Regions from separate parts of the Homo sapiens genome. Here regions 2 and 3 are each linked to region 1. The links come from fine-mapping of genetic effects on gene expression. A gene starts in region 1. Each other region holds a variant in brackets. All regions are shown on one strand. Distances are between the middles of the regions. Region 1 holds the start of POLR1E (RNA polymerase I subunit E). Region 2 overlaps FBXO10 (F-box protein 10). Region 3 overlaps POLR1E (RNA polymerase I subunit E).

Region 1 (8,179 bases):
AGGTGTCTCTGAATTATTTCCAAACTAAATTTCCAAAAAAAATTATGTGGTAAATTTTGCCTGTGATTATCCACGATTTGAATATAAAAGAGGCCACCTGGCCAGGTGTGGTGGCTCACGCCTGTAATCCCAACACCTAGGGAGGCTGAGGCAGGTGGATCACTTGAGGTCAGGGGTTCGAGACCAGCCTGGCCAACATGGTGAAACCCTGTCTCTAACAAAACTACAAAAATTAGCCGGGCGTGGTGGTGGGCACCTGTAATCCTGGCTACTCAGGAGGCTGAGGCAGGAGAACTGCTTGGACCCAGGAGGCGGAGGTTGCAGTGAGCCCAGATCACACCACTGCACTCCAGCCTGGGCGACAAGAGTGAGACTCCGCCTCAAAAAAATAAATAAATAATTAAATAAAATAAAAAAATAAAAGAGGCCACTATAGGTTTTTGCATTTTGGTTAATGCCTATGTAGGGCTCCCTCCATCCTGCCCCATCCCACCTCCATCCTGCCCCATCCCAGTTACACAGGCACGTATGTATATGTACATGGTGTGTATAGGTGTGTCTTTTGAATAACTGTTAAATAATTAAACAACACAGGGGTATACTATGATCCCCTTCCCAGCTGCCTGACCATCAACACTTTGCTTCCACGGATAGAATCTCCGTCATTTGGAATTCTTGCCTGTGGTAATTCTAGGAGTTTTTGCTTCAGTGGGTGTGTTGTACTCTTCACTCTTTGTCCTCGCTACAAAACAGTCAATCCAGGGGACTTGCACATAATCTGTCTGACTGGCAAATATGTGCCTTAAAGGGGAATCAGTCCGGTATAACAGTGATTCCTAAACTTCAAGTGCACATGAATCACCTGCAGATCCTGTTGCAGAAGATTTGATAGGGTTGGAGATCCTATATTTCTAACAAGTTCCCAGGTGCTGTCGAGGCTGCTGTTTCCATGGACCACACTTTGAGTAACAAGGCCATACAATGTGTTCCTATATCATGAGTAACAAGGCCATATAATGTGTTCCTATATCACAAGATACTTCTCTTAAGAACTATACTTGGCTCATTGTAGCCACTGTTATCTTGGTCACCTTTAACTTTGATTTAACTGTTCATATTTTCATTCAACCAAAAAACATTTATAGAGTCTGTTATGTGTAAACCCTATGCTAGTTGATTTCAACCAATATTACCAAACATCTTTGAGTTCCAGTCCCTGTGCTAGGCTTCCAAGATTAGTGATAATTCAGGCCCATTCTTTGCCCTGTCATTCATTAATTCATTCCATATTTATTGAGGGTCTAGTATGTTCAGGATTTGGAGATAAAGCAGTGATCAAAACAAACATAAATTTGTTTATTAACCTCCAAAGTGTTTATTGTGAACCCCAAGTAAGTTTAGTGAGGAAACAATCAATGGGTGAGACAATCACACAATTAAGCTCTTCTTTCTTCATCCTTCTTTCTTCTTTCTTCTTCTTCCCTTTTCCTTTCCTGAACAATTCAATCCAAAATCATGAGGTGGGGTCAAGCAAGGTAGCCTTCTAAGGGAGGAAAGGCTATGAGAGCTAAATGCAACACATGATTCTTGACAGGACATTTTTGCTATAAAAACATGATTGGGCCAGCTGCAATGGCTCACGCCTGTAATCCCAGAACTTTGGGAGGCCAAGGTGGGAGGATCACTTGAGCCCAGGAGTCTGAGACCAGCCCTGGCAACACAGTGAGACCTAGTCTCTACAAAAAATTTTTTTAATTAAGAAAAAACAAAACAAAACTGAGTGTGGTGGCACACACTTGTATTCCCAGGTTGTGGTGAGAGGATCACTTGAGCCTGGAAGGTCAAGGCTGCAGTGAGCCCTGGTTGCAACACTGCACTCCAGCCTGGGTGACAGAGTGAGACCCTGTCTCAAAAAACAAACTAACAACAAACGTTGGGACAATGGGTGAACTTAAATGGGATGTGAGGATTACATGGTGGTAATGTACCAGTGCTAATTTCCTGATTCTTTTCTGTTTAATTTTTTTTTTTTTTTTTGTCGCCCAGGCTAGAGTGCAGTGGCACCATCACAGCTCACTGCAGCCTCTGCCTCCTAGGCTCAAGCAATCCTCCCACCTCAGCCTCCCGAGTAGCTGGGACGACACGCGTGCGCCACCACACATGGCTAATATTATTTTTTGTAGAGACAGGGTCTTGTTATGTTGCCCAGCCTGGTCTCAAACTCCTGGAATCAAGGGATAGAACTGCCTCTCCCTCCCAAAGTGCTGGGATTGCAGGCGTGAACCACTGCGCCCGGCAATTTGCTGATTCTGATGGCTGTGTTGTTATTTAGGGAATGTCTGTAGGAAATACTATAGTCTTCAGGGTTGAAAGGGTATCAGGTTGACAACTTACTCTAAATGGTTCAGGGCAAAAACATTTCTTGCAGTGTTTCTTTACGTTTGAGATTGGGTAATTAGAAAAGCGTGACAAGTGCTCAGGCAAAGGGGCATGCAGGCTTTAGGGTTATTCCTAGGATCCTGGGTGTTGGAGGCGGGTGTTGAGGGTGTGTGGAAGGAAAAGAGTCTTGAAAGAAGGTGATTTGGAAGACAGAGGGGAGTCAACCGGAGTTCTTGCCCTTCAATAGTACGCATCTTTGGGCAAAGGGGGCCTCGGCCAGCGTCCATGCTTAAAGGCCCTGCTTTCGCCTTCTTTCTGCTCTGAAAACTCCCCGTGCAGAAGAAGGGTTGAATCCGCAGTGAAAAAGGGACATGTCCATCAGCTCGGACTCCCTCTTCTATTCCAGTCCAGAATCTCCTGCCCAAAGGCTCCGGGGTTGGCTGGGCTTCTGTTCCATCACCTCAGTGTTGATTGGGCCACAGGTGTGCACGCCACAGCCCATGGCGGGGAGCTGTTTGTCGGACTGTGGACAAAGTTTGTACCTAGAGCTGGATGTCCACGTGGGTGGGTGGGAAGCCCTAGAGAGGGGCGGCTATTCGCCAGCGGCCACATTTAGTTGGGGCTCAAGCAGTTCCTGTCAGAGAATTCTAAATTTGAACTTGGTCCTTCAGGTCTTGGGAAGATGAGTTTGTCACGGTAGGAGAGAGAGACGACACTCTCTTTAGAAGGTGCTGAGCCGGAAGAAGGCTCATAGCAAGCTTAGGCTGAAGCCTTTGGCGCCTCGGGCTCTGGACCTACAAAACCCAGAGTGCACGCGAGCGCTGAGCCAATCAGGTGCTGCGCCTCGGCCAGTCAAGCGGGTGTGTGGCACCTTGTGGGCGGAGACCACGCCTCTCTACGCGGGGGGCGGGGACACGCGGCTCGCGCGCTGTGGGCGGTGCCCGGCGGGGCCACGCCTTTTCCGGCCCGCAGCGCGGCCTGGGCTCCCGCGTGTTTAAAAGTGCGCTTGTGGCTGCTGCTGTCTTAACTCCTGTGCTTGGCGGACAGACAGGCGAGATGGCGGCGGAGGTGTTGCCGAGTGCGAGGTGGCAGTATTGTGGGGCGCCCGACGGGAGCCAGAGAGCTGTACTGGGTAAAGACTGCGGAGCTGGAGCAGTGCTCCTCTAACCCTCTCCCCTTCCGTCTCGGTACCTCAGCTGTCCTCTCGCCCTCCGTTGGGCTTCTCCCCAGCGGGGCCGGGACCCCTCTAGTCTCCACCACTCCCCTGGGCTCTGTCAGGGCTCCCCTGTCCGTCTTTCTGTCACTACCTCCCAGCCAGATTGGGACATCCCACTCACCCGCTCCCCAGAGCTGTGTCCAGGACCCTGCTGACCCCCTCACCCACCAGGTCTCCCGCCTCCCCCATTTCCCTCTCTTCACTGGGCAGGGGTTCCTTCTGTCACTTTAGGTATGTACCAGGCCTCTGCTGTCAGCCTCCTTCCGCGAGACATTCCCTCCTGTCACAGCCCCTCCCCAGGGTTCTCCCACCTCCCTACCTCCTCTTCTCAGCTGGCCCCGGATCTCCTCCAGTTCCCTTTGGGTCAGGACCCGAGCTTCCTTGCCATCCCCATTCTGACACTCCCTCCCAGTGACAGTCTAGTCCCACCGTACATTGTGTGGTACATTGTGTGGCCTTCTGCTCTCATCTCATTCTTGGGCTGCACTCTTACAGTCCAGTTCTCCAACGGGAAGCTACAGAGTCCAGGCAACATGCGCTTTACCTTGTATGAGAACAAAGATTCCACCAACCCCAGGAAGAGGAATCAACGGATCCTGGTAAGTGAAGCAGTTGCCAGCTGTCTCCACTCTGCAGGGCTCAGAAGGCCCCTGGGAGTGGGTGGATGTGGGAGGGAGTGAGGGGAGAAAAAGGGGAGTAGTAGCAAATGGAGCTTTGAAGAACTCTGATGCCCAGCAGCCTGGGATGTGGGGACAGGCTCCATCTTTCATTCATTTGTTCTTTCAACAAGCATTTATGGAACCTGCCCCTCTGCATCCCTGTGCTGCAAGCTTCTAGGAAAACAGCCAAATCAGGCCTAGCCCCACTCAGAGTTCATACTCTAGAGCAGGGTTTCTCAACCTCAGGACTATTGACTTTTTGGGCCAATAATTCTTTGCTGTGGGGGCAGCATCCCTAGTCTCTACTCATTAGATGCCAGTAGCACCAGAGTGGATTTCCCTGGATTGAGAACCTCTGCTCTAGAGAGATGAGAACTGGCTGTGAGGGACACTTTTACACAAAGCTCTGAGGCCACGTGGGGAAGAGTACAGGGCAGAGTGAGCTCAGTGGGAGGAGAGGTCTCTGCCAGAATGCCTTCCTTGGTGAGGTCATGTTGGAGCTGAGCCTTGAAGGCTGGAATGAGGGTTTGGCAGTCAACGTTTGGTGTTTCGAGTGAAAAGGATAGTGAGGACAAATGCAGAGAAGCAGGAAAGCTTGCTTATGATTGGGGAGTGAATCAGCCATGGTCCTGAGAGTATACAAAGAACAGGCCAAAGAGAGATTGCTTACAGAATCACTTTGTTGCATACCTTTAAGTGCCAGAAGCCCAGGGCCTCTCTCTCAAGTCTTGTGGCAGAATTCCCCCAAGAGCTTTTCATACCATTTAGAAGCTAGCACCATCTGAGGCTTCTCTTCCAGAAGTCGTCTTGCTTCCCCTGCAGGGACACCCCATATTCCCTTAGAGATAGTGGGGCTGGATCATCTGCCAGAGATGAACTAGTTCTAATCCATTGTGAGTCTGGATTCAAAAGCCTCAGCAAATGTAGAAAAGAGAAATGATGCTTAATACCTTTCAACATTGGTTGTAAATGGAGTTTCCCCTCTCTGCATTTTAGGCAGCTGAAACAGATAGGCTCTCCTATGTGGGAAACAATTTTGGGACTGGAGCCCTCAAATGCAACACTTTGTGCAGGTAATGGCAGGGGAAGGGACAGTGGGAAGGGTGATGGGGTTGGGAGTGGTGGCAGCACTGGCACTGCTGTTTCCTGTCTGTTTTAAGGGTAGCAGGAGCCATCTAGAGAGGTTTACTAGGTGATCCCTGTGTTCCTATTAGACCCAGAGCCCTTCCCTGCACGTGTAGACGTTGCTGGAAAGGAAAGATAACTTGAATTTCCTAAAAACCTCATTCATTTGTAATCTTGTTTATTTATAGCTGTCTTATTCCAAAAGGCAGGTCTCTCCATTAATTTGGAATGTGTGACTAGTAGGTCAAAGCTTGCGTGAAGTTTACCTGGGAACTAACGACAGGTAAAGAACTTGGTAGTGTTGAAGGCTCTGGACTGGGAAAGAGGAGCCTGGGATTCCCATCCAGCTGTGCTGCTGATTGACTGAGTGGCTGGGTAACTCTGCGCATCACTGACCCCCAGCCTCCCCCTCTGTACAGTGAAGATTGTCCAGCCTGAACTGTATCACTCTCGGGGGCTGGCATGATGCAGACAGGGCCCTGTGATGGTACCCAACAATGAACTACAAACTAGGCCCTTTCTGAGCCCCGGTGGACCATACTCCAATAGAGGAGAGGTCAGATGGGTGTATAGGTGCTGAGAACTATTAACCCTGCACTCTCCCCTCTCAGAGATGCCCTAGTTCCAATTGGTCTCCTCCCCGTTTACTTGATTTTGCCTCCATAAAACTGTTGTGCCATAAATTGTAGTGTAATTCTAGGTTCGTACACCCCAAAAGAGTTTTCCATTACACTACCGCAGTGAGCCCAAATGTGATCAACTATCAGAATCACCTAGTAGCTTTTTTTTTTTTCCCAGAACCACCTCATATCCTCCCATCCCATCCTATCCTTTCCTATTCCCTCTCTATGCAGAGAATTGCTGTGGGGTAGGGGTAGGGGAGATTATTGTTACCCATGAGTAGATGATGCATTCCTCAGGTGTGTGGGCAGAGAGAAGGTTGAGAACTTTTGAACAGGAAACAGGGCCAGGTGCAGTGGCTCACGCCTGTAATCCCAGCACTTTGGGAGGCTGATAGGGTCAGATCACCTGAGGTCAGGAGTTCGAGACCAGCCTGGACAACATGGTGAAACCCATCTTTATTAAAAATGCAAAAATTAGCCGGGGATGGTGGCGTGCGCCTGTAATCCCAGCTACTCAGCAGGCTGAGACAGGAGAATTGCTTGAACCCGGGAGGTGGAGGTTGCAGTGAGCCGAGATCATGCCACTCCACTCCAGCCTGGGTGACAGCAAGACTCTGTCTCAAAAAAAAAAAAAAGAAAGCTGTACAAATAATGCTTTTGAATAATCCATTGTTATTTGTATTATTTCTTCTTTATTCAGGCACTTTGTGGGAATTTTGAACAAGACCTCTGGCCAAATGGAAGTATATGATGCTGAATTGTTCAACATGCAGCCACTATTTTCAGGTAGGTCCCAGTCATGAAAGCTGACAGAAATAATGCATAGTTTGGGTTTGCTGGATGAGTTGGCTTGAGTTTTAGATTTATAAAACACATTTTATAGTTATTTTAATTTATTTATTCTGTTTTTTCTGCTTTGTCTGTGTTGAGAAAATGGTTTTTTATATACACACTGTTTTTTGTTTTTTGTTTTTTTTGAGATGCAGTCCCACTCTGTCACCCAGGCTAGAGTGCAGTGGTGTGATATTGGCTCGCTGCAACTTCCACCTCCCGGGTTCAAGTGATTCTCCTACCTCAGCCTCCCGAGTAGCTGGGATTACAGGTGCACATCACCACACCCGGCTAATTTTTGTATTTTTAATAGAGACAGCGTTTTACCATGTTGGCCAGGCTGGTCTCAAACTCTTGACCTCAGGTGATCCACCTGCCTCGGCCTCCCAAAGTGCTAGGATTACAGGCGCTAGCCACTGCGCCCGGCCTAGAGTTTTTTATTCAGCACACACTTATTGATAACCTAATGTACCAGGCACCAAGCTGGGGCTGTGGATGTGGCAGTAAGCAAGACAGACACAGATCCTGTCCCCATAGTGTTTAGAGACTTGAGGTCAGAGGTTCATAAAAGCAATCTGAGCAATGATCAGAGCAGAATATTAGAGGACATGTCTGATATAAAATCTTTTCCATAAAAGAACTTCCTTCATTCTTTTTATTTTTATTTTTTATTTTTGTAAATTACTTTATTTCTTCCTTGATCATTTCAAGGGACTATCTTCAAACCAGTACAAATATTTCATACGTAATACCTGGCCATTTTCTAAACAATCGAGGAGTTTGTTGCACAATAAGCTACCTCACGTCTTTCAGCAAGAAATACATTAAATTTGAAGAGTAAAGACATTACATAATGAACTAGGACATAATTAAAATTTGCCTTAAATATTTCTTTGGGGGAGAGAACACCACACTTCTACTCAATGAAGAGAAACATTTTTACAGTCCAGAGGTCTTTCATTTTTTAAACACCTGTCACGCCATGAATTCATAGGGAATAGGTTCCAGCAGCTCAGGCTGCTTCCCATTGGTTCTCACCAAGTGTGCTTCTCTGGGTGGAGCAGGCTGGCGCTTCAGTTGAACCCAGGTACCTTTCTCTTTTGCTTCTGTCTTTTTCTAATCATCTTTCTTCACCCGTTTCATGAAGCTTTCTCGGCTCTTAGAGTGCTTAATGTGCTCAATACGCACACTAATTCTCTTGGCAAGAATCTTGCCCTTGTTTGTTTACAACAATGCCAGCAGCATGCTAAACTGTAGACGCTTCCAGTTTAGCCATGGTAACACTTGAGGGGCATTCCTTTTTGAACAGTACCCATTCCCTTGATGTCTACGATATCACCTTTCTT
Region 2 (8,179 bases), 40 kb after region 1:
GATAGAGTCCAGACAGATGAAGGCTCTGCCCAAAGTCACTGCGTGAGTGAGAAGAGTTTTCTTCCTGTGATTATCTTGTTTTCCCATTATATTTTCCGTTCTCTGGGATCAAAAGAAAGGATAAGAGGAGTTAGATGCACATGAGCCAGGGCTGAAATGGTCCTGTCCTTAAGACATGACACAACTCCTGTCTTTTGCTATTTTAAAAGGGGATAAAGCCTTCTGCTTTGCTAACCCCACGGGGTCAATCTGGACTACAATGTGATTTGTAAGAGGCTCTTTGTTCTGGGAGGGCCTGGGTGACTGTGGCCTGAGAGTGCCTGTTCAGATGAGGTCTTTGAGGCACAGGGAAAGGCAGTGACCTTCTCAGGACCCACAAGCTGGAGATGGAACCTGGGCTTCCTGCCTCCCCGGCTGGGTTGGGAACAAGCTCCTCACCGTAGATGGTATTTCCTTCTATGAGGCCTTTGCCTTCGTCTCCCACAACCACACCATCTGAATAGCCAAAGCAGATGAGGTTACTCCTGAGAACGGGGATCCCTCCACGGCGGATGTCCACACCTCCCCACTGATTCTCACGGATGACATTTTCTATGGAGAGAAGCAGAAAAGAAGGTCAGTACCCAAGGGCCAGCTCCAGTGCTGGCAAATAGGACTTGGACAGTTTTGATCAAGGCTACTCCAGACCAGAAGGCCCTGGCCTTACCCTGCCAGCAATTAGCACTGTAAATCTTGTCTGCTGTCTGATGTTTCAGGGACTTATCTGCTGACTCCTTTCCCCAAGGGCAAGGCTTGTGTCTATCTTGTGCACTCCTATCTCCCCGGCACCTACTATACACCCAATGGCCTTGAGGACTGATGATTAAAAATGAACTAGTTTTGGCCAGGCATGGTGGCTCATGCCTGTAATCCCAGTACTTTAGGAGGCCAAGGCGGGTAGATCACTTGAGCCCAGGAGTTCCAGACCATCCTGGGCAAAATGGGGAAATCCTGTCTCTAAAAAAAAATACAAAAAAAATTAGCCAGGTGTGGTGGTGCGTGCCTGTAGTCCCAGCTTCTTGGGAGGCTGGGTGGGAGGATCACTTGAACCCTGGAGGTCAGGGCTGCAGTGGGCTATAATCGAGCCACTGCACTCTGGCCTGGATGACAGACTGAGACCCTGCCTCAAAAAAAAGAATAAACTAGCTTTGGTGAGTGACACTGGTGTCCAAAAAACCAACCAACCAAACAAAAAGGAAACAAAACAAAGAATAGGCCGGGTGCGGTGGCTCACGCCTGTAACCCCAGCACTTTGGGAGGCTGAGACGGGCGGATCACCTGAGGTCGGGAGTTCGAGACCAGCCTGACCAACATGGAGAAACCCCGTCTCTACTAAAAATACAAAATTGGGCGTGGTGGCACATGCCTGTAATCCCAGCTACTCGGGAGGCTGAGGCAGAAGAATCACTTGAACCTGGGAGGCGGAGGTTGCAGTGAGCCGAGATCGCGCCATTGCACTCCAGCCTGGGCAACAAGAGTGAGTGAAATTCCGTCTCAAAAAAAATAAATAAATAAACTGGCTTTAGAGTCCTCAGAGGCAGAATGTGGCCATTTACCCACAAGCCTGTGAGAAGGCGCTAGCCTCACCTGCAATGGCTCAGGAGTCTCTGTGTGACTGGCCTCTTCCTGTCTCCATGTCCCCACTGCAGGCCCCTTGTGCACCACACTCCAGTCCCACAAGCGATGTCCACTCGGCCATGCCAAGTCTGTTCTCACAGGCGGCCCTACACGGAAGGTTCTTTCCCAGCTCCTCCAGCCACTCCCACTCAGGGTCTGGTTTCCTTGTCACCTTCTCAGAGGGCTGCCCTGACCACACAATCCCAAATGCCTACCCAGTCCCTCTTTTGCCTTAATTATCCATAGAGCACTTGTCACCCTCAGATGGGATGTTTTTTGCTCATATACGTAGGCTTTTATTTATTTATTCGCTTCCTCTCCTAAAATGTCAGTGGCTGACAGCCTCGTTCACTGCTGCACTTGTAGCTCCTGGAACACGGCCTGTATACCACACGTGCTCAATCCATGTCTGATAAGTTCAGTCAGGGGGATTCCCTGGACCAGTATTTGCGGAATCCCTTTCATATCCCAGGCCTGGCTCTGCTCTGTGCTGAGGCTACATTGATGTACCAGATGGACTTGACCCTCACCTTGTGGAATTTACCACTTTATAACAGAGGAGACGGACACCACAAACCACTAAGAAATTAAGTCAAAGGCCCTAGAGAGGAGGCATCCTGGGTATAGTGAGTGTATCTGTGTACAATGGGGAAGTCAGGGAAGGCTTCCCTGAGGAAGTGACAGTTAAGCTAAGACCCAAAGGATAAGCAGGGGTTAGCCGGGCGGAGGTTTCCAGAGCAGGCAGAGGTCCGCACAAAGACCAAGAGGAGGGATTTGGACAGGTGGTTGGGCATCAGTGCTTCTGAAACTGTTCTGTGAGCCACCTTGTGAGGGCCTGTCGGCTCTGGGCCTGGAAGGAGCAGACACCCACTCTGTGTTAGGCCCTCCTGTAAGAAGCACAGCCACCATGCAGCTGGCGTCCCTGAGCTCCAGCCCACCAGTCAGAGAAAGAGGCCATAGTCTGTGGGGGTAAAGGAGCAGTGTGAGGTCCTGAAGCTGGGGGGTGACGCCAGGGGACCTTGGCCTGGCTGCCAGGTGCCAGGCAGTTCCCATCCGTACCTGTGATGAGGCCTTTGCCGTTCTCATTCACTGCTATGCCGGCAGCACGGCCCTTGAAGATGTGGTTCCCGCTAAAGTGGAAGGAAAACAAAACAAAGAGGTGAGCCCAGGGCATCAATGTCATGCTTCCAGGAGACTGCCTTCTTTCATGGAAACCCTGTCTCTACAAAAAATACAAAAAAATTAGCCGGGTGTGGTGGTGTGCACCTGTAGTCCCAGCTTCTTGGGAGGCTGGGGTGGAGGATCACTTGAGCCTCCCTATGGCTCAAGTCCACAGGGGCATAAAAGCATTTCCTAAAGTCCCTTTATAAGCCAGGCATATAGAAATGTTTAGTTGTCACTGGGACAGCTTGACCAAAAACTAAACCCCCAACTATGCTATACACGCACAATGATATCCAGTTCACTGTAGCCTCACTTGACTGTCATCTACATATATACCCATGCATATATATATACATTTTTTTTTTTGAGGTCTTGCTCTGTTGCCCATGCTGGAGTGCAGTGGCACAATCTCAGCTCACTGCAACCTCCACCTCCTGGGTTCAAGCGATGTTCGTGCCTCAGCCTGGATTACACGTGTGCGCCACCACATCCAGCTAATTTTTTGTACTTTTTGTAGAGATGGGGTTTTGCTACGTTGCCCAGGCTGGTCTCGAACTCCTGGCCTCAAGTGACCCATCCGCCTCAGCCTCCTAAAGTGCTGGGATTACAGGCATGAGCCACCGCGCCTGGCCTTATATGTATTTTATCCAACCCTCAAATGTTTGAACCAGAAAATGTTTACAATTTTTTTGTTTAAGACATGGGTTCTCGCTATGTTGCTCAGGCTAGCCTCAACCTCTTGCACTCAAGTGATCCTCCCACCTCAGCCTCCCAAGTAGCTGGGACTACCAGCATGAGTAACTGAGCCCTGGCATATTTTTACTACAAATCTCACCTCCAGAAAGGATCCGTGGCCACCTGGAGAAGTGTGTGTATGTGTGTACATGGGGCAAGCAGAATAAAGATACAGGAGGGATGAGAAAACACTTAGAAGAAGGGGACAGATCAGTGTACCAAGAGCCCAGGATGGGATATTAACTGCAGATGAGCACAATTTGAGTCCTGTGCTTCTCTGCATCCAAGGAAAAAAGAGAAACATATATAACATATAAAAAGACAAAAAATATAACTTTCTGTGGCAAAAATAGATCCTATGGTTTGTCTCATCCAGGCCATTACAGGGATCTTAAACTTCATTCCGTATCCTGCTCCAGACTCTTATCTCTCATTGCAAAGAAACAAAGGAAAAAAGCACAACCTATTCTCTCAAGATGACTATGTTTTAAAAACCCAACACTGATCTA[A/C]TTATGATATTCCTCACCCAAAACTCTTTCATGGTTCCCCAGCATCCCCAAGGTAAAGCCCAGACTTTTCAGCTTGGTGTATTAGTTTCCTATTGTTACTATAACAAATTACCACAAACTTGGTGGCTTAAAACAATACAAATTTCTATCTTTCAGTTCAGGAGGCCAGGAGTTCAAAATGGGTTTCACAGGGCTAAAATCAAAGTGTCAGCAGACCTGTGTTCTATCTGGAGGCTCCGGGGAGAATCCACTCCTCATCCTTTCCAGCTCCTAGAGGCCGCCTGCACTTCTTGGGCTGTGGCCTCATCACTCTGACTTCTGCTTCTGTCCTCACATCTCCTGCTCTCTTATTTATTTATTTTTTAAAATATTTTATTTATTTATTTATTTATTTATTTATTTATTTATTTATTTATTGAAATGGAGTCTCGCTCTTGTCACCCAGGCTGGAGTGCAGTGGCACGATCTCGGCTCACTGCAACCTTCGCCTCCCGGGTTCAAGCGATTCTCCTGCCTCAGCCTCCCAAGTAGCTGGGATTACAGGCACCTGCCACCATACCTGGCTATTTTTTATATTTTTAGTAGAGATGGGGTTTCACCGTGTTGGCCAGGCTGATCTCGAACTCCTGACCTCAAGTGATCTGCCCGCCTCGGCCTCCCAAAGTGTTGGGATTACAGGCATGAGGCACCGCCCCGGCCCCTGCTCTCTTAATCTAATTCCCCTGCTTCCTTCTCATAAGGGCCTGTGGTTACACTGGGCCCACCTGTATCATCCAAAATAACCTCCTTTCATCTTTCTCCAAAGTCCTTCACTCAATCAAATCTGCAAAGTTCCTCTTGCCTTGTAAGGCAACATATGCACAGGGTTCAGGGACTAAGACATGGACATCCTTGGGGCCATTATTCTGCCTATCATGCTTGGCATTCAAGGTCCTCTGCCGTCCAGCAACAACCTGCCTTTGCACTATCCCTCTGGTATCTCGTGTCCAAACACACCACATTTCTCACCATTTTCTCAGACATACCCTGAATTTCACTGCCTCTGGCCCAGAATGCCTTTTCCCTGGCCATAAAATCCTATTTATCTTTCAAGCACAACTCAAATGTCAGCTCCCTGACATGCTCAGCTGAGATCACGGCTGAGTTCCTTGGTCAGTCTGCATGAATGCCTAGTAAAGTGCTCATTTTGGTGAGTCTTCCATCATGGCTGTGTGAGTGTGTGTCCATCTCCAGCATAAGACTGTCAACTCCATGGGGCAGGCAGGGACTGTTCTTGTACATGTTGTATATCACTGCCCCCTTATATAGAGTGGCTGGAATGTGTGTTCAATGAACAGCACACACACATACAAATACACACTCTTCTGTTCAGGCAATAATGCAGAAGAAGGGAAAGAGCTCTATGACCACTAATTGTTTTTAGTAAGCTGTCTGTAACAGTGAAAAATAGGATTATATTCCGTAATTTTTGAACCAGCAATTAGGTCTGGTTCAAAAATTATGGCATATCGAAATACTGGAATATGGTGAAACTTTCCAAAGTGATGAATGTAAAGGCCATGCATGCAACAACATGGAGACAAAGTACCTATGGAATAATGCTGGGGGAAAGCGCTCTGAATATACTTGCTGCCCATTAATGCCAGCTATTCTCCTAAAGCACAGACATAACTGTGTGAGTCTTCTGCTCAGAGCCTTTAATGAGTCCCCGCTGTGTAGACAGAATAGGCTCCCCCGCCTCAGCTTGGTCTACATAAGGCCTTCCTCATCTGGCCCAAGCCTTTCTTTCCATCATTCCTTTCCACTCTGCTGTGTGGCACAGATGGTCTGCCGCAAGGACGTCAAGGGTCACACTGCAGTGACCACAGGGCCCAAGATATTCTGGGACCATCCCAATTTAAAATATTCTATAGCACTGTCACACCATGTCAGATTTTTTCTCAAGCCACCGTCAACGGTTTGCTAACCCCTGAATCTGCTGTGCCCTGCTGCCTTTGCTCATGCTGTTCCATTACTAGGAACATCCACCGACCCCTCCCTACCCCTATCTCCATGAGTCCAAGTCTTACCCATATTCCAAAGTCTGACTCTGATGCTACCTCCTAAATGAGGCCTTCCCACATCCTCCTAGTCAGAATGAGTCTCTCCTTCTGGTACCACTCTGACAGCATTTATCACAGTCTGCCCCATACTAGAGCTGGGATGGCAGACAGGGTCCCAGGACTGCCACTGCTGCCTCCCACCTATCACTTATATCAGTCCCTGACCACAGCATGCTTTTGTGCTGAGGCCAGGTGCAGCACCAGGATGTTGACACAGCACCCCCAGGCACCACTAGCAAGTAACTGAAACTGTTAGGTGAGCTGAAATCTCTGTTCCATCCCTGCCTGGGGGTACTTCTGTGCCCATTTCTCCAGGCTAGAGTAAGCTCCCAGGGAGCAGAGCCTGCCCATGTTGGAAGTGCTCAGTAGTGACTGCCGAATAGAACGCCTACACGGAGTTCACTGGAAGGGCACATAAACACAAAAGCCGCTGTGTTACTGGGGTGGGATGATGAGTGAAGTCTCTTCTCTGCTTGCATCTGTACAGTTGTTTCCGTAAAGAGTGTTTTCAAATGGAGGAGAGACAGGGAGGAGGTTAACAAAGATGAAGGAGGGAAACAGCAGCACACACCTCACAACGGGGTTTCCGTGGTACAGGATGTAAATGCCAGCCTCCTTATTGGAAAAGATTTGATTGTTCCGGATGATGCCTTTCCCATTGCCAAGGACGACAATGCCAGAGCGAAGGCCATGGTGGATCTGGTTACACTGCAAGTGAAAATGAGACACCACAGAAGCCAGATCAGACACGTCAGCGAAGCAGAGTGCCCAGGTGCCGCCCACACCTCCGCGGCAGGATGAACACAGTGGAGAAAATGACGTCACTGTAAGAGCCCTAGCCCGTGACAAAGGGAATGGGTCACACTGCCGCCCTGCCCTTCCTGCACCAGTACACACATGAAAACCTGTAAGGGAGACTATGAAGACTGGAGTCTTCGCTGCCCAGCCTCTTAGGAGGGCTCTTGGTCTTCACCTGCAAGGCAGGCTACTGAAAGTTTCAGAGCCTCTAATGAGTCCCCTAAACACATAATCATTTGGCCAGGCCATAACTTCTAGGGTCCAGGGAGGCCATCTCTTGAGGAAAGGCAGCACCCCAGTGCAACCAAATGTTGGCCAACTGCAGTCCTAAAGGGGCCACATCCAGAGAGGGGTCACAGTTGTTTGACTTCTAGTCCTTTCTCATTTAGGGAGGGCCAGCGGAAGATGCAGACACTGGGGGGCCAAGCTGTCCCATGGGGCATAAGGTCTTAGAAGGTGTATGAGCTACAGAATGCCAAGAGATATCTTTTTTTTTTTTTTTTGGTAGAGACAGGGTTTTGCTTCATTGCCCAGGCTGGTCTTGAACTCCTGGCCTCCAGTGATCCTCCCATCTTGGCCTCCCAAAGTGCTGGGATTACAGGTGTGAGCCACCACACCCGGCAAGATATTCATTTCTAATATCTCTTTGTGCGAATGGGAAAACAGGCCCACGATTATATAGTACATTTGTGGAAAAGCCAGATCTGAAATCTAGTTTTTCTCTTTCCCATTCCAGTTAGTTGCTTTTGCACAGTGACTTAATATTTTTAGATTAGAATAATAATAAAATTATCTCACTCTAAGTTAATTTATAGCTGAAGTCCAATTCTATACTTTGTAAATTGGGAAGTTAGCTGTATCTCTTCCAAAATGATTTCGCAGAAATAAAGTTCTAGTTGGCTTTAAAGTGTTTCGTGTGCAAACTCTCCTTATTCTTACTCTTTCCAGATTTTTCCTGAAGGATTTGGCAGGCTCATCAGAGCAACCACTGCCTAAGAGAAGTCCCGCACAGGGCTGAAGAGCTCCAAAAGGAGTATGCAGCAGCATTTCCATCCCTACACCCTTTCACAACGCCAGGACTAAAATATACCACTCCCTTCCCCCTCCACCTGCTATCCCTCTGTCCTCAGAAGGGCAAACCCCTCATCTCTCTAGCCAGAGGGGCAATAATTTCCTAAGCCAAAGCCATGCATCAACCACCAGCTGCATGGTAGA
Region 3 (8,179 bases), 20 kb after region 1:
GGGATTCTGTCTTTATGGCCTGGAGCATGAATGTGCTGCTACCTTTTGCCAAACCTCCCTGAACAGTCATGTTGAGGGGTCTCTCCAGTTCTTCTGTTTATGTCTTCCTTAGGATGATGGAGATAGCCAAAGCCATGAGGCTGAAGATCTCCAAAAGAAGGGTGTCTGTGGCCGCCGGCAGTGAAGAAGATCACAAGCTGGGCACCCTGTCCCTCCCGCTGCCTCCAGCCCAGACCTCAGACCGCCTGGCAAAGCGGAGGAAGATTACCTAGACGCATGCTTTCCAGACAGGGCGTTTTGGCTGCATCACAGCCACTGGCTGGTCCTATTCATTTCCATTTTTATGTATGTTTTGAAAAGAAAAGGTCCGGGGATGGTGGCTCACACCTGAAATCCCAGCACTTTGGGAGGCCGAGGCAGGAAGATCATTGAGCTCAGGAGTTTGAAACCAGTCTGGACAACATAGGGAGACCCCATCTCTACCGGAGGAAAAAAAAAAGAGTCAGGCCTGGTGGTGTGCGCCTGTAATCCCAGCTACTCGGGAGGCTGAGGCAGGACGATTACTTGAGCTTGGGAAATCAAGGTTGCAGTGAGCTATGATTGTGTGGCCACACTCCATCCTGGGTCACAGAGTGAGACCTTGTCTCAAAAAAGTAACATAAGGAAAAAAGAAGCCTTGCTTTAGCACAGGTATGAAGCCAGAAGCCAGCATCTCAACTGTGCTTGTCTTATGCAGAAATATAAAGCGATGGCCAGGTTGGACTTCATCTCTCTCCTTTGGTATTATTGCTGTGATTATAAATGGCAGATGTTTCTCATGTTGGTTCACCTGTGGGGATTTGGGAGGGTGGGTCCTCCCTCCCAAAGTTGACTCACCAGGCTGAGTCAAATCTAATGGATGAAGGTTTCCAAAGAGAAATGTGAAGTGGCGTGCTTAGGTCTGGAAGGGCCAGTGGAGTACGCAGTGAGGAAGGAGGATCTGGCCCAGCACGCCTGGGAAATGACACTTCAGGCTTTATCAGAAGCTAACTGGGTCACCAGTGTGATGGGGGCTGCCACAGGCCAGTAGGATACAGCCTGTTGTAATGGGGTGGAGCCAAGTCAGAGGAAGTGGTGACCCAATTTCTCTGTCTGGTGGAGGCCACATAGAAGGCAGGGGTCAGCTATGAAAGCCACACTTTGAAGAGGATGAATCAGTCAGTGTTCAGTTCAGAAAATCAATTGCTCTAGGTATCTTAAGAAGAATGGATTTTAATGTATGGATAAGGTGCTGTAGAATTGTGACAAGGGCCAGAGGACTGGGAATCGGAAGGTTGCCGTCAGGACTGCTGAATTCAAGAACACACTGCCGGGGTTGCCATCGGGGACTCAGAAGCCACTTCTGCTCCATAACTGCTCCTGGAATTCATGCAGCTGAAGATTCAACACTGGGCTGCTGATTTCAGCTACCCATGCTTTCTTCTTTTTCTTTTTATTTTTTTGAGACAGAGTCTTGCTCTGTAGCCCAGGCTGGAGTGCAGTGGCACGATCTCGCTCACTGCTACCTCCGCCTCCCATGGCCTGGTTCAAGCAATTCTCCTGCCTCAGCCTCCCGAGTAGCTGGGATTACAGGCATGCGCCACCATGCCCAGCTAATTTTTTTGCATTTTTAGTAGAGACAGGGTTTCACTGTGTTGGCCAGGCTGGTCTTGGACTCCTGACCTCATGATCCACCCGCCTTGGCCTCCCAAGGTGCTGGGATTACAGGTGTGAGCCACCGTGCCCAGCCTACCCGTGCTTTCAAAGGTCCTGTATTTCCACCACTTTGTCACCACAGACAGCCAGAAGGTCAAGCAGCTGGCCTCCACCTTGCTTCCTTCTGGTGCGCATATATAGGAGCCTGATTAGCATGTAGAATCCTAGCAGAATGGGAGTCTTTGAAATAGGTTTCAGCTCACCAGCCTCTAGTTACAGGAGGCATTCTAGAAGGACATGAGTGGATTATAACTGCCAACCAATTGTATGTGCCACTGAGGAGATGGAGAAGCTGTGTCCAGAGCGGTGCTATAAGGACAGGAGTGTGACACAGGAAGGCTTAGGTACGTGGCCTGGGCCCAGTCTCACATCTCAGGGTCCTGCTTCAAGTGGGAGCAGTTGAGATCTGTGACACTCAGCACCTGGGAGGCCGGGTCAGTGAAGGGAGGGAGACAGAACTCAGCTCCTCTGAGAGGAGAAGTTTACACAGCACCTGGGGCCCTCCATTTGGGAGTCACAGTGGAAAGGAGTCTTGGCTGAGCTTTGGGGCAGGTGCACCTTATTTTCTTTGCGGTCTGGGATGCCCTCAGAGCTGTGCTCCTCTGCTTTGTCCCCATCTGCCTCTGGCCCTGGGTAGGAGGCACTTGGAGCATACTTTGTCTTCCTTCAGCAGAGGTGTGGGCAGGGAATCTACTTGTCTCTTGTTTTCCTTTAAGCCGTTGTGAAAATCAAGTATGTGACTCTTCCTTGGAAAAAATAATCTCTCAGAAAAGGACTTCTAATACATCCTCAGGGTAGAATGTGTTTCCGTGATTACTTTTTTTTTTTGAGATGGAGTTTCGCTCTTGTTGCCCAGGCTGGAGTGCAATGGCGTGATCTTAGCTCACTGCAACCTCTGCCTCCCGGGTTCAAGTGCTTCTCCTGCCTCAGCCTCCCGATTACAGGCATGCACCACCATGCCCGGCTAATTTTGTATTTTTAGTAGAGACAGCGTTTCTCCATGTTAGGCTGGTCTCAATCTCCTGACCTCAGGTGATCTGCCCGCCTCGGTCTCCCAAAGTGCTGGAATTATAGGCGTGAGCCACCACGCCCAGCCTTTTGTGATTACTTTTAAAATTCAGCTGGGTTTGACACTTGGAGGCTTAATTTCTGGGAATGACTGGACACAGCATGTGGCTGGGACCCTCTGAACAACCTCTGACCTAGTGGAGAAGCAGGTGGTAATGACTGTAGGTATGGATAGGGAAAGACTAGGCGGGCAAATACTTGTCGTGTGTCAACAGGTGTATTTTGCTAAATGTCGGGGACACATTCCAAGAGGCTAAAAAGCAAATTTCTGTACATTAGGAGATTTGTGAGTCCTTAGGAAAGGCTCAGAAGAGGGCTCCACCTAGCACAATACCTGACATAGAAAGTGGTCAGTGTCTGCAGAATGAGTCGGCATGAACCGTACTTTCCTTGGCAGGGTTATTAGGTGGTAAATACCTGCAGAATAATGGGATTGTACTAGGGTTTCTTCTGGCTTTAGAAACCCATTTGTTTACTAATAGATTCCCAGAGGATACCTTGATCTCACCAAGCTATTTGCCAGAATGTCTCCTGATGGCCTCATTGAAGAAAGGGGGACTATGAGCCAGATGCTGGTGCCCTGAAGATTTGTAGTTTGTGGGATAGTCTTAACTTGGCAGGGTTTGATTAACAGAATGAAGTCTGTTCCTTAGAGGGAAGTCTTTGCTTGCTGCCCTGACCTGCTGGACACTGTTAATTGGGATGAGGTCAAAGAAGGCATAGTTACCACATTTGCAGGAGACCCTAACCTGGAAATAGTAAATTACATAACATTCTTTCAAGTGTCTCCTCTTTTAAAAAAGTATTTTGATATAGTTTCACACAGAGAAAACTTGCAAGAACTCTTGTATATCCTTTACCCAGATTCTCCAACTGTCAATACTTTGTCCCATTTACTATTTGCTTTAGACATTTTGAGATTTGTTTTTGAACCATTTGAGGAAAACATCCTACCCTTCTACCCATAAGTACTTTTTCAGTGTGTACATCTTAAGAATCAGGACTTTCTCTTCCATAACCACAGTCCATCAGATGCAGGAAATAAGACAATAATGCAATACTATGACTTAGCCCACAGTTCATGTTCAAATCTTACCGATCACCATGCCTCTTTGGTCTTGCTTAATCTGAAACAGTTCAGATTTTTATTGGACTTTCTCGGCTTTGACATTTTGGAGAGTGAGGTGTTATTCTTTAGGGTGTCTGTCAGTTTACATTTGGGGCTTTCCCGTGATCGGATTCAGGATTTACATTTTTGGCAGGAACAGCACAGAAATGATGCTGTGACCCACATGCATCACATTAGGGGCCCATGATGTGGGACTGCGCTTTCCTTGCTGCTGTTAACTTTTATCAGTTAAGGTTGTGTTTTCCGCATTGTGAAGATACTGTTTTTCCTTTTAATAAGTAATTTCTGGAGGGATACTTTGAAACTAAGTATCCTGTTCCTCATCAAACTTTCACCTACTAGTTTCAGCCTCAATTGATGATTCTTGCTGAATCAATTACCAAGATGGTTGCAAAATGGTGATTTTGCAACATTATCGTTTCTTCTAATTATTGGCATGCTCTTATAAGGCAGTTTGTTTTCTCGACCTTAGAAGTTTTGTGTTCATTTAGTTATTGGCATAGACTCAAGAGTCTTGTGTTCTATGTGGAGTCTGTTACTGTGATTCCTTGTGATGTCCAGATTGTATGTATTTGGCCAATCTTGAGTTCCTTCAGGAAACCTCCTGGATCCCATCATTTTAAGGGTGCTTCCTTACTTTCTAGCATGAGATATTCCAGGCCTACCTTGTACTTTCCCTGCTGCAGCCCTGGAGTCAGTCTTTTGTTGTGGTTTTGCTTTTTAGAGACAGGGTCTTGCTCTGTCGCTCAGGCTGGAGAGCGGTGGTGCAGTCAGCTCACTCCACTCCTGGGCTCAAGCCATCCTCCTGCCTCAGCCTCCTGAGTAGCTAGGACTATAGGCATGCACCACCAC[G/A]CCCAGCTTTGAATCCGTCTTTTATCCAAGGAGCTCTGGCCTTTTAGCGGAGAATAGCGGATGACATGAATGATGGGCCTGAAGCAGGAAGTGAAATGCAATCCTGACCACCAGACAGATGGGATCTTCAGCTGCACTCAGGCAAGAACTAGGCTCGGGGTAGAGGTGACAGCTCTGTGATGGGGAGCTCAGGCTGCACCAGGAGGCCATGCTAGGTTTGACTTCATTTAAAAAGCACACTACACAGCTGACGGGCTCAGGAGCTCCATGAAGGGCACCCTGCAGAGGTCTGGAGGGTAGTGAGAAGGTACCAATGGGGCGAGCATGCCTGTGTCGGGAGGCTGATCCGGGTAGGAATAAGCCCAGCATGCCCCACATGAGCCCACCATGAGGAAGCATTTGGAGAGAAAGCTTGCTCTGTGTTGTCAGAAGGGAGATTGAAGAAGGTGGGCCCAGGGGTGCTGTTGACAGTATAGGCTCATGTGCTGTTCCAAGGCTCATCTCTGGCTCTTGCCTGGTCTGGCCATACCATGTCCACATCCGCTGTACTTAGGACTTCCTCTGGGCACCAGGGCAGTGGCCTCACCAAGACCTGGAGGCCTAGATGATGAAATCATACTGGTGTTTGCTGTGCTTGTACATTCCCATCAGCAGACATCCGTGTTTGGGCCTGACTGGCCAACAGGGAAGTCCAGGGAGGACACAGTATAAGCTGCTTGGGTAGAGGTCAGCTGGAACCTCTTGTGAACTCTGCACCAGAGTGAAGCCTTCACCCATGGCAGTATTCCTGTGGGTGGGAGGGAAGCTACTGCAGACTGAAAGCAAATGATTCCAAGGAAACACAGTACTTTAGAGAATTCTCTTTAGATCCGTGAGTGCTGCCCATGGAGCTGGGCCATTCCTCCTGAGATACAGGACAGGACGCCTCAACTCTGCTTCTTTGGGCTCTCCCAGACCTACCCAGGCCACTGGAGTGAGTCTAGAGAAATGACCAGGGTGGTGAAGAGACACCCTGCAAACTGGCACATACGAGAGGAACCCAGGAGGGCAGCAGACCCCAGGGGGATGAGGGTGCTGCCTGCAAATCTCTGAAGAGTTGTCACAGAACAGAGTGAAGAGATGTCCTTTGGGGGCCCCAGGAGGTAGAGATTCTGGGAATGAGGTTGGGTTTGTTTCCTCATTTGTCTGCCTGTCTGTCCGCCATCCATCCAACACTTAGTGAGCTTTGCTCTGTGCTGGGCATAGAGAATCAACAGTGAACAAGATGGGCAAAGTCCCTGCCCTCAACCAACAGACTGAAAAGAGAGGATTCAGTGCCATCTGCAGGTGGCATGTGGCTGAGTGGGCACAGGAGCATGGAGAAGGCGCAGTTAACTGTTATTTGTAGAGACAGGGGAAGGTGTTCCATAGAAGTAGTGACTAAGGAGCTTCTGAAGGAGGGGTAGAATTTAGCGAGGGAGAGAGACTTTGGCTCAATTAAGTAAAAAGTTAGATGGGCTCAGTTTTCTTGGGCAAGTCTGGCCTGTTGTGCAAAGCACCCGCACTCCCTGACTCTTCCCCAAACACAAGAGCTAAGGTGGGTGTTCTGTTCCTCCCACTTCTGCCTCCAAATGACCTGGAGGGAATTTGTGTCCCAGCTGTTCCCTTCCCTGCCACCTTTGCTCCAGGTAATAGCCCTCCTCACACCTCTCCACATCTGATAGGGAACTTTCCCCTGCCGGATCTCAGGAGCATCAGCACTCCCAGCCTCCAAAATGGGGACAATGAGCTCACCAAGTCAATGTTTAATACATTATTGACAGAACTTACGATGATTTTAGGTGGCTCAGGGATGTAGTAAAGTACTTGTGTTCTGCTGGTTAGGCTAAGCTGAAGTGACAAATGGCCCTCAAATGTCTGGTTTCAACAAAAGTTCATTTGCTTTTGTTGAATGTCTGGCACATGTCTGTCAGCCAGCAGGCACCTGGGACCCTGCTCCGGGTTAGCTTCACCCCGGGACTCGGGCTGCCATGTCTGACACGTGGTGGTCCACTGGCAGAGGGACACACGATCGGGGCAAGTTCTGCTGGCCCTTAAAGCTTCTACCCAGAAGTGACCATTAACCACTTCTGCCTACATTCACTGGGCAAATCAGGTCCCATGGCAACGTGAGAGGGCATGTACTCTCCCTGAGGGGCAGCAAACAGTAACTACCAAAACCAATGAATATTTTCATTTTAATAGTTTAATGTATGTTTATAGTAATATAAAAAGTCTTTTCAGTGTGTGAAAAAAAGACATGTTGTAGGATGGGATCCTGGAATGGAAAAAGGACATTAGGTAACAAACTAAAGAAATCTGAGGCCAGGCACAGTGGCTCATGTTTGTAATCCCAGCACTTTGGGGGATTGAAGCAGGCGGATCACTTGAGCCCAGGAGTTTGAGACCAGGCTAGGCAACATGGCAAAACCCCGTCTCTACAAAAAAATACATAAATTAGCCAGGCGTGGTGGTGCATGCCTGTAGTCCCAGCTGCTCAGGAGGCTGAGGTGGGAGGATCACCTGAGTGAGCCTGAGGAGGTCAAGGCTGCGGTGAACCATGATCACACCACTGCACTCTAGCCTGGGCAACAGAGTGAGATCCCGTTTCAAAAAGAAAAAAATCTGAATAAACTATGGACTTTAGTTAATAATGTGCCAGTACTAGTTTATGAATTTTTACAAATGTACACTGATAGCATAAGATGTTAATAACACAGAAACTCGGGGGTGGCAAGGGTGATATGGGAACTCTAGTAATCATCTGTCTGCTCAATTTTTCTGCATATTTAAAACTTCTAAAAATTAAGTAGATTTAAAGAAAAAAGTACTAACTTCTCAGGTGACATATGGATATAGCAAAAATTCTAAGATGCTGAGTAAGTGAAGTTGGGGAAGTGTGCTCCGGGGTCTGAGGTCCCTAAGCTGACAGTCCAGTGATCCATGGGGACGGCCTGTTTCTGTTGTCTTCACAGAGCAGGCAGGAGTGGAATTATAGCCCGATTGAGCCCTTCAGCCCTATATCTGGAACTGTCACAGGAACAAGCTGACCCAACAAGATGGCCCCAGGATTCTCCTGTCTCCTTCAGAGGAAACAGTGCTGGGCCTGGCCAGCTGGGAGCCCCAGTATATGCCCAGACTAAGGAAAGGCTTCCAAAAGTGCCTTTTTTAAAATATAGAACTTTATTTTGGTTACTGAGGTTTTTGTTACTGTTGGTTCACAGAAAAGTCATTTCTTAGAAAATAGTAACGGCAGCATTTTTTACAGCGACTCACATTGGGGCCACCAAACAAGTGCAAAGGACAGTGCCAGGGATAGAAGAGGCCAGTACTCTTGTGCCCAGTGTTCTCAGGGAGAACCCAGTGCTCCTGGCTCCC

Evidence for each region.
Region 2: its variant is fine-mapped to the expression of POLR1E in tibial artery (GTEx, PIP above 0.99).
Region 3: its variant is fine-mapped to the expression of POLR1E in whole blood (TOPMed, PIP 0.93).

Annotation. Positions count from the first base shown.
Region 1 is chr9:37,482,613-37,490,791 of GRCh38, forward strand. POLR1E (RNA polymerase I subunit E) reads left to right here and starts at 3,336. Exons shown (of 12, transcript NM_022490.4): 1 at 3,336-3,511; 2 at 4,091-4,194; 3 at 5,251-5,327; 4 at 6,703-6,788. The coding sequence starts at 3,436. It also overlaps the pseudogene RPL21P83. RefSeq lists an enhancer at 2,801-3,392 and a silencer at 3,134-3,463.
Region 2 is chr9:37,522,387-37,530,565 of GRCh38, forward strand. FBXO10 (F-box protein 10) reads right to left here. Exons shown (of 11, transcript NM_012166.3): 5 at 6,738-6,874; 6 at 2,716-2,786; 7 at 439-591. Among named protein-coding and RNA genes, the nearest start is that of POLR1E, 41 kb to the left of the region's middle. RefSeq lists enhancers at 6,585-6,954, 7,055-7,104. The variant A/C (reference allele first, on the strand shown) is at 4,065.
Region 3 is chr9:37,502,931-37,511,109 of GRCh38, forward strand. POLR1E (RNA polymerase I subunit E) reads left to right here. Exons shown (of 12, transcript NM_022490.4): 12 at 113-767. The coding sequence ends at 272. It overlaps FBXO10 (F-box protein 10), which reads right to left. Exons shown (of 11, transcript NM_012166.3): 11 at 7,962-8,179. Among named protein-coding and RNA genes, the nearest start is that of POLR1E, 21 kb to the left of the region's middle. The variant G/A (reference allele first, on the strand shown) is at 4,784.